Regions from separate parts of the Homo sapiens genome. Here all the other regions are linked to region 2. Evidence: fine-mapped expression QTL. A gene starts in region 2. Each other region holds a variant in brackets. All regions are shown on one strand. Distances are from middle to middle. Region 1 overlaps RNF213 (ring finger protein 213). Region 2 holds the start of SLC26A11 (solute carrier family 26 member 11). Region 3 overlaps SLC26A11 (solute carrier family 26 member 11).

Region 1 (5,294 bases), 92 kb after region 2:
AAGCTCCGCCTCCTGGGTTCACGCCATTCTCCTGTCTCAACCTCCCAAGTAGCTGGGACTACAGACGCCTGCCACCACGCCTGGCTAATTTTTGTATTTTTAGTAGAGATGGGGTTTCACCGTGTTAGCCAGGATGGTCTCGATCTCATGACCTCATGATCCGCCTGCCTTGGCCTCCAAAGTGCTGGGATTACAGGCTTAAACCACCACGCCCAGCCTCCCATGGATCAGTTTTACCTGTCTTCCAGCTTTGACCTTTCTGCCTCCGACTTTCCCCACTCACCCCCATGTCTCTGAGCTCTGTCTGTGTGGTGCAGAGATCGGCAATTCCTTCTTTCCCGTCTCTGTGCAGTTTTCACCCACTTGAGTTCATGAGTTTCAGTTTGAAAGTGATGTAAGGTTTAATGTTTAGACTGATCATTTGTTTGTTTTTTTGAGATGGAGTTTTGCTCTTGTTGCCCAGGCTGGAGTGTAGTGGCGCCATCTCAGCTCACTGCAATCTCCGCCTCCTAGGTTCAAGTGATTCTCCTGCCTCAGCCTCCCAAGTGGCTGGGACTACAGGTGTGCACCACCACACCCAGCTAATTTTTGTATTTTTAGTAGAGACAGGGTTTCACCATGTTGGCCAAGCTGGTCTCAAACGCCTGACCTCACGTGATCCACCTGCCTTGGCCTCCCAGAGTGCTGGGATTGCCGATGTGAGCCACTGCACCCAGCACAATTTTTTTTTTTTTTGAGACAGAGTTTCACTCTTGTTGCCCAGGCTGTAGTGCAATGGCGTGATCTCGGCTCACCACAACCTCCGCCTCCTGGGTTCAAGTGATTCTCCTGCCTCAGCCTCCCGAGTAGCTGGGATTACAGGCATGTGCCACTAAACCCAGCTAATTCTGTATTTTTAGTCGAGACAGGATTTCTACATGTTGGTCAGGCTGGCCTTGAACTCCTGACCTCAGGTGATTCGCCTGCCTCAGCCTCCCAAAGTGCTAGGATTACAGGCATGAGCTACTGCACCCGGCTGATCATTTTTTTTAATCTTACTTCAAGTTAGAACTGTGACGTTAGTGATAGAAAACAATTAAGTGTATGTTTTAACTTTCTTCCTTTCAGTTTTCTTGTGTTAAAGTACCACAGACACAGTTTAAGAATAAATGTCATTGGTGAGATGATCACGTTCTCTGGAGTGGCTGCTATTTAAACCGCCACAGGCAGCTGCCAACTTCCACATAAACTGTGTTTAAGGAATTTGTCAGTTACTTAGGATTTATTTTCTACAGAAATAACTATCTTAAATGTTGGCTGGGATCTCAGATAAGTTTAATCCATATTATGGACAAAATACTCTCTACCTGTGCCATAAAAGCAAACAAACAAACAAAAAACCTTTGCAATACTAAAATTAAACAAAGCAAAAATACGTGACGCATGTTGAAGAAACTTTTAGGTGTCTGCTGCTGTGAAGGCTCCAGGGTTGACGGACACTTGGAGAACAAGGTGCCCGTGTCAGGCTCCGGAGGTCTGTGCAGCCTCTGAGCGGTCATTCAGTTTGTTGTTATTGGCCATCGCTGTCCAGCCCTGTGCTGCTGGATTGTTCTAGAAGGAGCTGTGCCATTGGGGGGACCTTCAGCAGTGCCTGTTTCGTTTTCTGTCGGCCCCCGCCCCCTGCGTGCTGTGCTCTAGTCACTCCTGTGCCCAGCCCCCTCTGCGGGCTCTCTTTCACAGCAGCACCTGCATCCTGGTCCCTCTTACATGCTTTGAAAGCTCCTGCCTGTATCTTCCCGCCCTGGCCCTTCCCAGGTATAGTGACGCTGTGTTCCCCTGCCTGCTGTGGGCTTTTCCTCTCTCCCACTCTCGGGCAGCCCCGCCCAGCAGCAGCCTTGTCCTCTTGCCCAGCTGCCTCGAGGCGTGGGCCTCTCGGTGCTTCCAGTGAGCACCTGAGCGTATCCAGGTTCTGTGGCTCCTGACACTTGCACGATGTGCGGGGCTGTGCTTAAAAAAAAAGATCACACACTTGGCTGGGTGTAGTAGCTCACACCTGTAATCCCAGCACTTTGGAAGGCCAAAGCAGGCAGATAACCAGAGGTTAGGAGTTCGAGACCAGCCTGGCCAACATGGTGAAACCCTGTCTCTACTAAAAAATACAAAAATTAGCCAGGTATGGTGGCATGCACTTGTAATCCCAGCTACTTGGGAGGCTGAAGCAGGAGGATCACTTGAACCCAGGAGGTGGAGGTTGCAGTGAGCCAAGATCGCGCCACTGTACTCCAGCCTGGGTTACAGAGTGAGACTCTGTCTCAAAAAAAAGAAAAAAAAGAAAAAGAAAAGAAAAAGACCACACATTAATCCAGGACTGTGGGGCTCCTCCCAGGAGGAGGTGGCCCTGACCCCTGACCTGTATGCTTCCTGGGAAATGTGCTTCTGGGGAGGACAGAGGGAGGAGGAAGGAGAGGGAGGAAGAGGAAGGCAGGGGAGAGAAGGGAGGCATTACAGGAGGCTTTGAGCCCAGGGGAAGAGGGGTTTTCCCTCTGGTCTGGTGGGTCCGGCA[C/T]GGAGGCGGGGGGAGAGCATGATGGGAGCACAGTGGGAAGGGGACCCAGGTTTACCTCCGGGTCAGGAGCCTGGCTGTGGTCTGGCATGGAGGCAGGGGGAGGGCATGATGGGAGCACAGTGGGAAGGGGACCCAGGTTTACCTCCGGGTCAGGAGCCTGGCTGTGGTCTGGCATGGAGGCAGGGGGAGGGCATGATGGGAGCACAGTGGGAAGGGGACCCAGGTTTACCTCCGGGTCAGGAGCCTGGCTGTCTCCTGTGTCTAAGGAACAGGCCCGGGAGTCTGCAGGGCCCCTCTCTGGGGCGTGCTTTTCCCCCTCAGTCTCCTGGGCACAGCCTGGGGACCTGCTCATTGGCAGGACAGAGGCTGCCTGGGCTTTCGGGGGAGCACACAGATGCCGTTCCCTCCCTCCCTCTTTTCTCCCGTATCTCCCACGTTCAGGGTGAACCCAGAAAACCCTGGGGAATGGAAGTGCTTTGGGAATGTGGGCTTCTGCCAAGGCCTGTGGTCCCTCCATCGTAGCCACTCCTTGAGCAGCCTGTGCCAGCAGGGAGGAGAGGAGGGGGTGCAGCATCTCGCCGGGAACCTGAGTCCACAGCCGAGGATGACTGACCCTCCCTCTTGTGTGACAACAGGATTCTGCAGGACAGAGAGATGAAACTGGAAATAATTCAGTCCAAACAGTCTTCCAAGGGACCCTTGCTGCTACGAAAAGGTGGCTCCGAGAAGTTTTTACAAAGAACATGCTCACATCTTCAGGTGCCTCATTCACATACGTCAAGGAAATTGAGGTAGGCATTTGGCCGAAGGCTTCTGGGTAGGGATGTGACTGATCGTGATTCCTCATGGCCTCAAATCATGGGGTACAGGCTGCTGGCCAGGGGCAGTTGTTGGCCTTCACCTGAGCCTCAGTTCTTCATCTACAAAATGGAGTTGCTCCTGTCTACCTGGCAGGGTGGCTCTGAGGCAGACAGATGCCGGGTGCAAAGTGCTGCTGCACTGCCTCGTGTCCCCTGGCCGGGCACAGTCCCTGTGGTGATGGAGGTGTGGAGGTGATGGTGATGGTTGGTGGTGGTGGTGGTAGAGGTGATGGTGGTGGAGGTGATGGTGATGGTTGGTGGTGGTGGTGGTAGAGGTGATGGTGGTGAAGGTGATGGTGATGGTGGACGTAATGGAGGTGATGGTGGTGATGGTGGTCATGGAGGTGGTGGAGGTGATGGTGGTGGTGGAGGTGATGGTGATTGTGGTGGAGGTGATGGTGGTGATGGTGATGGTTGTGGAGGTGATGGTGGAGGTAATGGAGGTGATGGTGGTGGTGAAGGGGATGGTGGTGATGGAGGTGGTGGTGGTGGAGGTGACAATGGTGATGCTGGTGGTGGAGGTGGTGGAGGTACTGGAGGTGATGGTGGTGGTGAAGGTGATGGTGGAGGTAATGGAGGTGATGGTGGTGGTGGAGGTGATGGTGGAGGTACTGGAGGTGATGGTGGTGGTGAAGGTGATGGTGGAGGTACTGGAGGTGATGGTGGTGGTGGTGGTGATGGTGGAGGTGGTGGAGGTAATGGAGGTGATGGTGGTGGTGGAGGTGATGGTGGAGGTACTGGAGGTGATGGTGGTGGTGAAGGTGATGGTGGAGGTAATGGAGGTGATGGTGGTGGTGGTGGTGATGGTGGAGGTGGTGGAGGTAATGGAGGTGATGGTGGTGGTGGAGGTGATGGTGGAGGTACTGGAGGTGATGGTGGTGGTGAAGGTGATGGTGGAGGTACTGGAGGTGATGGTGGTGGTGTAGGTGATGGTGGAGGTGATGGTGGTGGTGAAGGTGATGGTGGAGGTAATGGAGGTGATGGTGGTGGTGAAGGTGATGGTGGAGGTACTGGAGGTGATGGTGGTAAAGGTGATGGTGGAGGTACTGGAGGTGATGGTGGTGGACGTGATGGTGGAGGTAATGGAGGTGATGGTGGTGGTGGTGGTGGTGGAGGTACTGGAGGTGATGGCGGTCGTGGAGGTGATGGTGGAGGTAATGGAGGTGGTGGTGGTGGTGGTGGTGGAGGTACTGGAGGTGATGGTGGAGGTAATGGAGGTGATGGTGGTGATGGTGATGGTGGAGGTACTGGAGGTGATGGTGGTGGTGGTGGAGGTAATGGAGGTGATGGTGGTGGTGAAGGTGATGGTGGAGGTAATGGAGGTGATGGTGGTGGTGGTGGTGGTGGTGGAGGTAATGGAGGTGATGGTGGTGGTGGTGGTGGTGGTGGAGGTACTGGAGGTGATGGCGGTCGTGGAGGTGATGGTGGAGGTAATGGAGGTGGTGGTGGTGGTGGTGGTGGAGGTACTGGAGGTGATGGTGGAGGTAATGGAGGTGATGGTGGTGATGGTGATGGTGGAGGTACTGGAGGTGATGGTGGTGGTGGTGGAGGTAATGGAGGTGATGGTGGTGGTGAAGGTGATGGTGGAGGTAATGGAGGTGATGGTGGTGGTGGTGGTGGTGGTGGAGGTAATGGAGGTGATGGTGGTGGTGGAGGTGATGGTGGAGGTACTGGAGGTGATGGTGGTGGTGAAGGTGTTGGTGGAGGTACTGGAGGTGATGGTGGTCGTGTAGGTGATGGTGGAGGTGATGGTGGTGGTGAAGGTGATGGTGGAGGTACTGGAGGTGATGGTGGTGGTGAAGGTGATGGTGGAGGTAATGGAGGTGATGGTGGTGGTGAAGGTGATGGTGGAGGTAATGGAGGTGATGGTGGTAAAGGTGATGGTGGAGGTA
Region 2 (5,255 bases):
CGAGTGGGTACATCAGGCAAGCATGGTATCAGAGGGCATGTTAGCAGGTCTCATACTTGGTGGGTATGTTAGCAGGCAGGCATGTATCCAGAAGACCCCATACCCACTGGGTATGTTAGCAAGAAGGCATGGTACCTAGTAGGCACAATACCTGGTGGGTATATCAGCAAGCAGGCAGGGTGCCCAGGCAGGCCTGATACCCAGTGGGTATGTTGGCAGGTGAGCATGGTATGGAGGCTGGACTGATTGATAGATGGTGGGTATGTTGGCAGGTGAGCATGGTATGGAGGCTGGACTGATAGATGGTGGGTATAAGCAGGTAGGCATGGTACCCAGGCAGGCCTGATACCAGTGGGTATGTTAGCAGGTAGACTGGTATCCAGCAGGGATGATGCGTGGTTGGTATGTTAGCAGGCAGGCATGGTATCCAAGTGGGCATGATAAGCAGGCATCATACCACAATAAGCTTGATGATACCCTAAGCAGGCATGATACCCGGTGGGTATGTTGGCAGGTGGGCATGGTACACAGGCTGGACTGATAGCTGGTGGGTATAAGCAGATGGGCATGGTACCCAGGCAAGCCTGGTACCTGCATAGGCATGTTAGCAGGCAGGCATGGTACCCAAGTGGGCAAGATACTCATGCAGGCATGATGACCCAACAAGCTTGATGATACCCCAGCAGGCATGCTACCTGGGTGGGCGTGTTAGCCGGCTAGGCATTTAGGCAGACAGCGGCTGAGCGCATGGCCACAGAACTGCTGGGCAATTCTGGGCTCAGCGGAAACCGCATGGGGCAGAGGGCAGGAGAGCCTCGCCCAGGGCGCGTCTAAAGCTCTATGTGTGTGCGTCCCACCGCTGCTTCTCACTGATGCCATCTCAAAGGCCTAGTGACCTTGCAGGTTGTCTATTTCAACCCTTTCATCCTACACAAAGCAGCTGAGGCCCAGAAAGGTGAGGTGCAGTGCCCAGGGCCACACACTGGGCAGCAGGAAACAGGGACAGGCCGCTGAACTCCTACAACCACACCAAGCTTCTTCCCCCTGCTCTGGAGTAGAGGACACTGGGGGCACCACAGGAGAGGCTGGTGGGAACCCCCAGACCAACACTTTCCCCAGCTCCCTCAGAGGCAATGTGGTCCATGGATGGACAGAGGAGGCTGGGCACCTTCCAGTTGGGCTTCCATCCTCCACCCCACAGTACCCACAGGTGTGAGCACATGGCAGCCACGTAAACCTGGAGGGAGAGCGGGATGGGCTGTGCTCCGTACCCGCAGGCCAGGAAGAAAGCTGCCCTTCTCCAAACCCAGAGTGTCTCGGCACTTGGCTGTGGGCCTGCTATGGTCTGAACTGTGTCCTCCCAGAATTCATATGCTGAAGCCCTAACGTCAACATCACTGTATCTGGAGACAGGGTCCTTAATTAAGGGTAAATGAATCATAAGGATGAGATCCTGATCTGACAGGACTGTGGACTTAAAGGAAAAGAAAGAGAGGGCCGGGTGCAGTGTTTCATGCCCGTAAGCCCAGCACCCGGGAGGCCAAGGCAGGAAGATTGCTTGAGCCCAGGAGTTCGAGACCAGTCTGGGCAACACAGTGAGACCTTGTCTCTACAAAAAATACAAAAATTAGCCAGGCATGGTGATGTGCACTTGAGGTCCCAGCTACTTGGGAGGCTGAGGCAGGAGGATCGCTTGAGCCTGGGAGATTGAGGCTGCAGTGAGCTGTGATTGTGCTACTGTGCTCCAGCCTGGGTGACAGAGTGAGACCCTGTCTCACAAAAAAAAAAAAAAAAAAAAAAAAAGGAAAGAAAGGAAAAAGAAAGGAAAAGGAAGTGAGACCACCCCCATCCGCTTGTCATGTGAGGAAACAGTGAGAGGGTGACCACCTGTAAGCCGAAAGTGGACCCTCACTGGAACCCAACCAAGCTGGCACCCTGACCTTGGATTTTCAGCCCACAGAACTGTGAGAAATACATTTCTGTTTAAGCCGATCCATGGCAGTCCGTGCTAAGAAAGGCCCTAGCCCAGGGGCCGCATAGCCTGGACTCTGACAGCCTCCTGTAGGAATTCTGATCCGCAGGTGAGGGTCCATGCAGATTCTCTGCTGTGTTTCTGGGAGGCGAGGAGTTGGCAGGAGAGCTGTTTATGTTACAGTGAGCCGAACCCCCGCCCAGAGACCACAAAATTAATCAGAAAGAGGGCAACTGGCAGGGCGCCAGACCTCAGAAGGGGAAAGAATCGCAGGCCTTGGGTTTGGCCTTGTCACTTGTCATGAGCCAGAGCCTTGATTACCTAAACCGGAAGTCTTGTGAGCAGCACGGTGCTTGCTCTGGAGGAACCTGGGGTTTCTGAGAGGGACTGGGGTTGGGGGAGACGGTGGTGGGTGGGTGGTGGAGGGCTGTGCCCTTGGGATAAGGGAAAAGACAGCTGAGACACAGGCTCTGGGGTCGGAAATGAGAGCCAGGAGGGCACCCTGTCTGCAGTCTCTGGGGACCGGAGCACCAGCCCCTCCTCTGGGATCCCCTCCCAAGAGGGATTTGAGATCCGTGGACCCCTGAGCCCTGGCTGGGCAGGGTCAGAGGAGGGTGGGACAGGCGGCACGAGGTAAGTGTAGGGGTGCTGGATGCTGGGGCTCACTCCTCCAGCCTTTGCTGCCCTCTCTGGGGAGACACCCGTGAAGAGTCTGGGGGCGGCACAGAGAGGAGGACGAGAGGGAATGGCAGCGGGGGATACAAGGGCAGGGCACACTAGGGTCAGCATTGACCACGGGTGGGGAGGAGGCCAGTGGCCACTTCCCCGGGCCACCGCAGGTGGGCGTGGGGGGGCGGCGCCGGCACTCACCGAGGAGCAGCAGTGCGTTCCGGGGACGCGCCCGGCAGAGCCCCAGGACTAGCAGCAGCGCGCAGCAGGCGGGCACGGGGCAGCTCATGGCGGCGGCGGCTCGGACTCGGGATCGGGATCCGGCTCCGGCTCTCTGGTCTCCCGCTCGGCCCCGCCCCCTGCCCCGACCCCGGTCACGTGCGCGCCAGACCCCGCCCCGGCCTGTCCCCGGCGATTCCTGCGGACCCAGCTGCGGCGACGCCAGGAGACCCCAAGCTGCATCGCCGAGTGGGTGAGTCCGTGGCCCGCGAGGGCGGCGAGCGGGGACCAGGGGCAGGGGGAGCGGACAGTGGCCGGGGTCGCCGGGGGCAGCCGACGCGGGGGCCAGCGCGGAGTCCTGAAGTGCGGGGGCCTCCCGTGGGGACCACTCCCCCGCCGCGTCCCTACCCGGGTCCCCGCGGCCCTCGGCCTTGCTCGGGGCCAAGGGACCGCGGACGGTCAGGTGGCGCAGGGTCTCCTCCGGAGACCCCAGGATCCGGAGCCAGCGGCCTTGTGGGCGGGGCCGGGGGCCGGGGAGTGGATTTTGCCCGGAGCGGAGCGGCCGGGGGCGTGGGGGGCTGGGGGTGAGGGTGGCGGCTCTGCGCGCGGGCGCCGGGGCCCTGGAAGATGCTGCGCACCTGAATTAACCGGGCGCCTCTGATGTCCTCCCAGAAGCAACTAGAACTCCAGGGCTGTGAAAGCCACAGGTGGGGGCTGAGCGAGGCGTGGCCTCAGGAGCGGAGGACCCCCCCACTCTCCCTCGAGCGCCGCAGTCCACCGTAGCGGGTGGAGCCCGCCTTGGTGCGCAGTTGGAAAACCTCGGAGCCCCGCTGGATCTCCTGGCTGCCACCCGCACCCCCCGCCAGCCTACGGTGCGCCCGCGGGCCCAGCTTCTCTCTGCGCTGCTCCCCGTTAAATTCCCTGGGGAGACGGAAAAAAAGGCAAAGGAAGTCGGTTCTCCAGGGGCCAGAAGTGTTGAGCCTAATTAGTCTTCAGACTTCTCAATGAGGAATCGCTTATCAGTTTCTTATCTGGGAGAGTTGAGGATGGAGGGACAGAAGGCACCCAGGATTTGCACGGGGGGGATTCAGGGAGAGAGGGTGATGAGGGACGGGGTGGGCCTTCCAGTCTTGGCCCAGTCCCCATCTTGCACACATTGTTGGCTTCCTCTTAGAGCCGTTCGCCCCCCTGGGGAGGGGAGACCCATAGTGACCTCTCCTGACACCCGCCGACCCTGACCAGTGTTGCCGGGTTCTTCAAAGGCCACGCTCTGACTGCTGGTCTGTGTCACCTGCACCCCCCAGCCCCACCGTAGAGATGCCTTCTTCGGTGACGGCGCTGGGTCAGGCCAGGTCCTCTGGCCCCGGGATGGCCCCGAGCGCCTGCTGCTGCTCCCCTGCGGCCCTGCAGAGGAGGCTGCCCATCCTGGCGTGGCTGCCCAGCTACTCCCTGCAGTGGCTGAAGATGGATTTCGTCGCCGGCCTCTCAGTTGGCCTCACTGCCATTCCCCAGGCGCTGGCCTATGCTGAAGTGGCTGGACTCCCGCCCCAGGTGAGGCGTCTGACCCTGCTGCCAGCCATATCTCAGAAACAGTGCAGAATACACAGTATCAATCCCAGACACCATCAGCGATTCCAGGTTTCCAGCCCCTGGGCCCCAAGGAACCTTTGGTTTACAGTGTGTGACGCAGATTGTCTCTGGGCCGACCCAGGCTCCTATGCCTGTTTGGCACACACAGACACTGAGCTGGTTATGGAGGGGCCAGCGAGATGACTCATGGAGGCCTCAGGAGTTCAAGACCAGCCCGACCAAAATGGTGAAACCCCGTCTCCACTAAAAATACAAAAATTAGGCTGGGTGCGGTGGCTCAAGCCTGTAATCCCAGCACTTTGGGAGGCCGAGGCAGGCGGATCGCAAGGTCAGGAGATGGAGACCATCCTGGCTAACAGGGTGAAACCCCGTCTCTACTAAAAATACAAAAAATTAGCCAGGTGTGGTGGCGGGTGCCTGTAGTCCCAGCTACCTGGGAGGCTGAGGCAGGAGAATGGCGTGAACCCGGGAGGCGGAGCTTGCAGTGAGCCGAGACTGTGCCACTGCCCTCCAGCCTGGGCGACAGAGCGAGACTCCATCTCAAAAAAAAAAAAAAAGAATGCTTCCTCAGACTTGGACACAGCACACGGGCCTGCACCGACCCCTCTGCCTGGCTGTCTGCACCCTGAGGCCCCAGTTGAGTGCTGCTAAAAAAGTGGCCTCCTGATCACTGCAGGTCCACCCACAGGGCAGGGCGGTGCACCTTTAACCTGGGCCTGGACACAGCTGACACCCACACATCCCGAGCTTGGACACGCACACTAGGGAGCTGGTGGATGGGCCTCGGCCTCCTGAGTGCTCACCA
Region 3 (5,294 bases), 33 kb after region 2:
CTATGGAGGCCGTCCTGTTCAGAGCCACAGGTAAAGTGTAAGGGCTGGGTCCCAGGCCCTGCGTCTTAGGCCTCACCTAGGAGCCTTCTGAGCACTGCAGGGTCAACATCCCAGGGGTGTGGCCAGTGTTTGCAGAGAGGCAGGGGTCTCTGTTGCTGTGGTTAAATGTGCGCTCTCTGCCAAGTCCTAGATGGCAGAACGTGGGGGACTAGGGCGTGTCCCCAGGCGCCCAGAGGAGACATTCATGAACTAGCCATGGAACAGGAGGCCAAGTGACCCGTATACCCCAGGTGTGGACCACAGCCGACCCTTGTCAGAGTTTCCTTCATTCCCAACCTGGCCCACGAGGCTAGTGTTATCTTCATCCCCATGTCCAGAAGAGGTCACTGAGGCCCAGAGAAGCCAGGTAATCTGCCCACGGTCACACAGGATGGTGGGCCCGGCTTCAGATTTGGGCATGTGCCTTCAGAACTTCGCTCATAAGTGTTACGTCCTGTGTCATATTTGCAGAGCACATGTCTTCATGGTCTTTGGAGATGATTCACTTAAAAAAATACTCCTCTGACCCAGACATGGTGGCTCACACCTGTAATCCCAGCACTTTGAGAGGCCGAGGCGGGAGGTCAAGGGTTTGAGACCAGCCTGGCCAACATAGTGAAACTCCGTCTCTACTAAAAATACAAAAATTAGACGGGCATGGTGGCGCACGCCTGTAATCCCAGCTGCTCAGGGGGCTGAGGCAGGAGAATCGCTTGAACCCGGGAGGCAGAGGTTGCAGTGAGCCGAGATCGCGCCATTGCACTCCAGCCTGGGTAACAAGAGTGAAACTCCATCTCAAAAACAAACAAACAAACAAAAAGTCCTCTGGGCCAGGCGCTGTGGCTCACACCTGTAATCCCAGCACTTTGGGAGGCCGAGGTAGGAGGATCATTTGAGGCCAGGAGTTTGAGACCAGCCTGGGCAACATGACGAAACCCCATCAAAAAAATAGGAAAAAATAGCTGGACGTGGTGGCGTGCACCTGTAGCTACTCAGGAGGCTGAGGTGGGAGGATCACTTGAGTCTGGGAGGTTGAGGCTGCAGTGAGCCATGATCGTGCCACTGCACTCCAGCCTGAGCAATGAGCAAGACCCTGTCTCAAAAAACAAAAAATTAAAAAAAAAAAAATCTTCCTCTGACAGCATTCCCCTGGGGCTGCGTTTCTTCTCACCATTCACTGGTATGGAGGTGAAGCCATACCTCTCCGGGAGACTCTGAGATGGCAGGTCTACCAGGCTGCCGACCCGTGTGCTACAGAGGAACATCCCTGCCCTGGCTAAAGTCTGTCTGTCTCTCAGGTCCCCGTTCTCCGTGTCCTGCTGTCCGCTGACCTGAAGGGGTTCCAGTACTTCTCTACCCTGGAAGAAGCAGGTGGGCACAGTCAGACATCCTGTGGCTTTGGTGATTTTGTAAAAATCATAAATGCTTATTGTAAAAAATATGGGAAACCAGCTGGGCACAGTGGCTCATGCCTGTAATCCCAGCACTTTGGGAGGCCGAGGCAGGTGGATCACCTGAGGTCAGGAGTTCGAGACCAGCCTGGCCAACATGGTAAAACCTCATCAGTACTAAAAATACAAAAATTAGCTGGGTGTGGTGGCATGCACCTCTAGTCCCAGCTATTCGGGAGGCTGAAGCAGGAGAATCGCTTGAACCCAGGAGGCAGAGGTTGTACTGAGCCGAGATTGTGCCACTGCACTCCAGCCTGGGTGAGAGAGCGAGACTCTGTCTCAAAAAAAAAAAAAACAAAAAAAACAGGAAACCACCTCCACCCCAGTCCACTTTGGTGATCACTCCATACCCCTCCCCTAAACACGCATATGTACCTGCCTGTCAGGATGTGGATATATGTTTGCGGTTTTACGTAAATGGGACCATTTCATACCTGGTGCTCTGGAACCCACATTTTTCATGCAGAAGGTTGGAAGGATGTCCTTCCAGCCGAAAGTCCACATCCCGGGGGATCAGGACAGAGCAGGGCCGGGTCAGGAGATCCAGAAGCCCCGGGACAGAAGGTACGGGAGGGACAGGAGCAGGGTGGGCGCTGACCCTTGAGACAGCAATCGCAGGAGGTCTGAGCCGCAGCAGGTGTCAACAAGAGGATGGGCCAGAGATGCAGAGCATCCACCCCAGGCCACACAGCAGTGGCCAGAGGGTCCCAGGCCCCAGTGCTAGGCCTCTTCCTCTTCCACTGAGGTCACAGCTGAAGCTGGGTCAGCTCCGTGAGAGTGAGGGGTGGCGGATGTTGTACTGACTTCCTTGGCTCAATGTGACGTCAGGGAGATTCACCCATGTTGTTGTAGAATCAGCTCAGATGCAGTGCACTGGAGGTGGATAAGCAGAATGTGGCCTGGCCGTGGGATGGGAGGGTACCCTGGAGCAGTAAGAAAGGGCCGTTAGTCACCTGAAAAATACGCTTACAGAGACTCAGGTGAGACCCTCATGGAGTTAGTGACACTGGCCTGGGTGGCCCACAGCTCCTTCCTGCACACCTTCCAGGAC[T/C]CTGGAAGGCCCTCCTTAATCCCTTCCTGTGAACTGACCCATCCTCACTTCTGAGCTTTTAGTGCTTGAAACATTTATTGTATTTTCTGCAGAGAAGCACCTGAGGCAGGAGCCAGGGACCCAGCCCTACAACATCAGAGAAGACTCCATTCTGGACCAAAAGGTTGCCCTGCTCAAGGCATAATGGGGCCACCCGTGGGCATCCACAGTTTGCAGGGTGTTCCGGAAGGTTCTTGTCACTGTGATTGGATGCTGGATGCCGCCTGATAGACATGCTGGCCTGGCTGAGAAACCCCTGAGCAGGTAACCCAGGGAAGAGAAGGAAGCCAGGCCTGGAGGTCCACGGCAGTGGGAGTGGGGCTCACTGGCTTCCTGTGGGATGACTGGAAAATGACCTCGCTGCTGTTCCCTGGCATGACCCTCTTTGGAAGAGTGGTTTGGAGAGAGCCTTCTAGAATGACAGACTGTGCGAGGAAGCAGGGGCAGGGGTTTCCAGCCCGGGCTGTGCGAGGCATCCTGGGGCTGGCAGCACCTTCCCGGCTCACCAGTGCCACCTGCGGGGGAGGGACGGGGCAGGCAGGAGTCTGGGAGGCGGGTCCGCTCCTCTTGTCTGCGGCATCTGTGCTCTCCGAGAGAAAACCAAGGTGTGTCAAATGACGTCAAGTCTCTATTTAAAAATAATTTTGTGTTTTCTAAATGGAAAAAGTGATAGCTTTGGTGATTTTGTAAAAGTCATAAATGCTTATTGTAAAAAATACAGGAAACCACCCCTCACCCTGTCCACTTGGGTGATCATTCCAGACCCCTCCCCAAACATGCATATGTACCTGTCCGTCAGTGTGTGGATGTATGTTTACAGTTCTACATAAATGGGATCATTTTATACATGGTGCTCTGGAACCCACATTTTTCATGCAGTCATTTGCAGTGAATTATTTATTGTGATAATAAATAGCATTAGAATACAAGATTTTTAATGTCTGCGTGGTATTTTGGTCTATATATGCATCATAATTGACTTACCGAGCCCTCTGTTCAACGTGTGCGTGGGTTAGAGACGGGATCGTGCCTCCTTTAGATGTGTCAGTTGAAGCCCTTGCCCTCTATGTGACTGCGTTTGGAAACAGGGCTTTTAGGGGGTAACTAGGTTTAATGAAGGTCATAAAGGTGGGCCCTGAACCGATAGCTTTAGTGTCCTCGTGAGAAGAGACGCCAGAGAGCTCGTTCTCTGCACCCTCACACCCCAGGGAACTCCATGAGAGGACACGGCAAAACCAGGCCATGCGCCCACCAGGAAGAAAGGCCTCATGAGGACCCCAGCCTCCAAAACTGGGAGAAGATGAATCTCTGTGCTAGGCCCCGCAGCCTGGGGTGATCTGTGACGGCGGCCTGAGCAGGTGAGGACTGCCTGCATGTTTGTATTTTTATGAATGCTTTGATTGAGTCTGGGGGTAAATCCCTGGAGGCCTGTGGCAGCCTCAGAGGTGTGTTCTCCCTGCACTTTCTTCAAGAAGAATGTGGCCTGCCCTACTGAGCCTCGTTCTGCCCGTTCTGCCCGGGCAGTCCCGGCCAATGTCAGCGCAGCAAGGGGAGGGCCTCTGTAACCAGGGCTGCTGGCTGCGGGGCTCCCCACTGGACACGGGAGTGGACATTGGAGTGTCCTTCATCCGCGTCACTCTTCCAGGTCCCTTGCCTCCTCCCATTTTCCTTCCTTCCTTTCCTTCCTTCCTTCCCTTCCTTTCCTTCCTTCCTTCCTTTCTTTCCTTCCTTCCTTCCTTTCCTCCCTTGCTCCCTTCCTTTTCTTTCTTCCTTCCGTTTTTCTTTCCTTTCTTCCTTCCTTTCATTTTTTTCTTCCCGTTCTCCCTTTCTTCCTCCCTCCACCCCTTTCTTCTCACTGTGTTCCCCAGGCTGGTCTTCAACTCCTGGGCTCAAGCAATCCTCTTGCCTCAGCCTCTGGTGTGGCTGGGACCACAGACACATGCCACCGCGCCAGGCTAATTTGTTAATTGTTTTTATAGAGACAGGGTCTCACTTTGTTTCCCAGGCTCGTCTCAAACTCCTGGGCTCAAGTGATACTCCAGCTTCAGCCTGAAGTGCTGGAATTAAGGTGTGAGCCACCATGCCTGGCCCTCTCTCATTCACAAGTGAACCATTCACCCCTGCCCTCCAATCCATGTCGTTTCTGACCTCAGGCAGCTTCTCTTTCTACATAAAGTGAACCTGTCCCAAAGCTGTGCTCACTGGGCCCCCCTGCCAGGGCTGGAAGAGGCAGCAGTTCACATTTGGCTTGCACTCACATACCAAGGGCATCCATGCTTGAACCTAGACATGGTTCATTCACAGGGATGGGTGAAGGTAAACAGACTGTGGCGGGCACTAGGCACTATCAGTTTCATAAATCTGCATACCACCTGTGACTCAGCAGTTATGCTTCTCGGAATCTACTCAAACATGCTTGAGTCAGCCTTCCAGGAAGCAGGCACAAGGACGTTTGTGACAACTTGGTCAGTAATTTTAAGAAGTAGGAAGAAACCTGAGTTTCTCTGAATTCGGTAACATCTTGACTGTAGGACACACGAATAATGCCGTGGAATATTGTGCAGCAGTTAAAAGAAATGAGGTGAAGGCCGGGTGTGGCAGCTCACGCCTGTTATCTCAGCACTTTGGGAGGCCGAGGCTGGTGGATCACTTAAGGTCAGGAGTTTGAGACCAGTCTGGCCAACATGGCGAAACCCTGTCTCTACTAAAAATAC

Evidence for each region. PIP is the estimated chance that this variant, and not a neighbour inherited with it, causes the effect.
Region 1: its variant is the best candidate, but not a certain one, in a credible set for the expression of SLC26A11 in whole blood (TOPMed, PIP 0.86).
Region 3: its variant is the best candidate, but not a certain one, in a credible set for the expression of SLC26A11 in whole blood (TOPMed, PIP 0.60).

The regions. Positions count from the first base shown.
Region 1 is chr17:80,309,835-80,315,128 of GRCh38, forward strand. It overlaps RNF213 (ring finger protein 213), which reads left to right. Exons shown (of 68, transcript NM_001256071.3): 15 at 3,178-3,333. Among named protein-coding and RNA genes, the nearest start is that of RNF213, 52 kb to the left of the region's middle. The variant C/T (reference allele first, on the strand shown) is at 2,543.
Region 2 is chr17:80,217,384-80,222,638 of GRCh38, forward strand. SLC26A11 (solute carrier family 26 member 11) reads left to right here and starts at 3,044. Exons shown (of 18, transcript NM_001166347.2): 1 at 3,044-3,113; 2 at 3,533-3,732; 3 at 4,165-4,411. The coding sequence starts at 4,178. It overlaps SGSH (N-sulfoglucosamine sulfohydrolase), which reads right to left and starts at 2,950. Exons shown (of 8, transcript NM_000199.5): 1 at 2,843-2,950. The coding sequence starts at 2,930. RefSeq lists enhancers at 1,992-2,111, 4,769-5,255 and silencers at 2,912-3,181, 3,202-3,271.
Region 3 is chr17:80,249,992-80,255,285 of GRCh38, forward strand. SLC26A11 (solute carrier family 26 member 11) reads left to right here. Exons shown (of 18, transcript NM_001166347.2): 17 at 1,338-1,410; 18 at 2,634-3,509. The coding sequence ends at 2,725. Among named protein-coding and RNA genes, the nearest start is that of RNF213, 8.2 kb to the right of the region's middle. RefSeq lists enhancers at 3,518-4,234, 4,708-5,243, 4,918-4,967, 4,998-5,047 and cis regulatory regions at 4,670-5,206, 4,686-5,150. The variant T/C (reference allele first, on the strand shown) is at 2,542.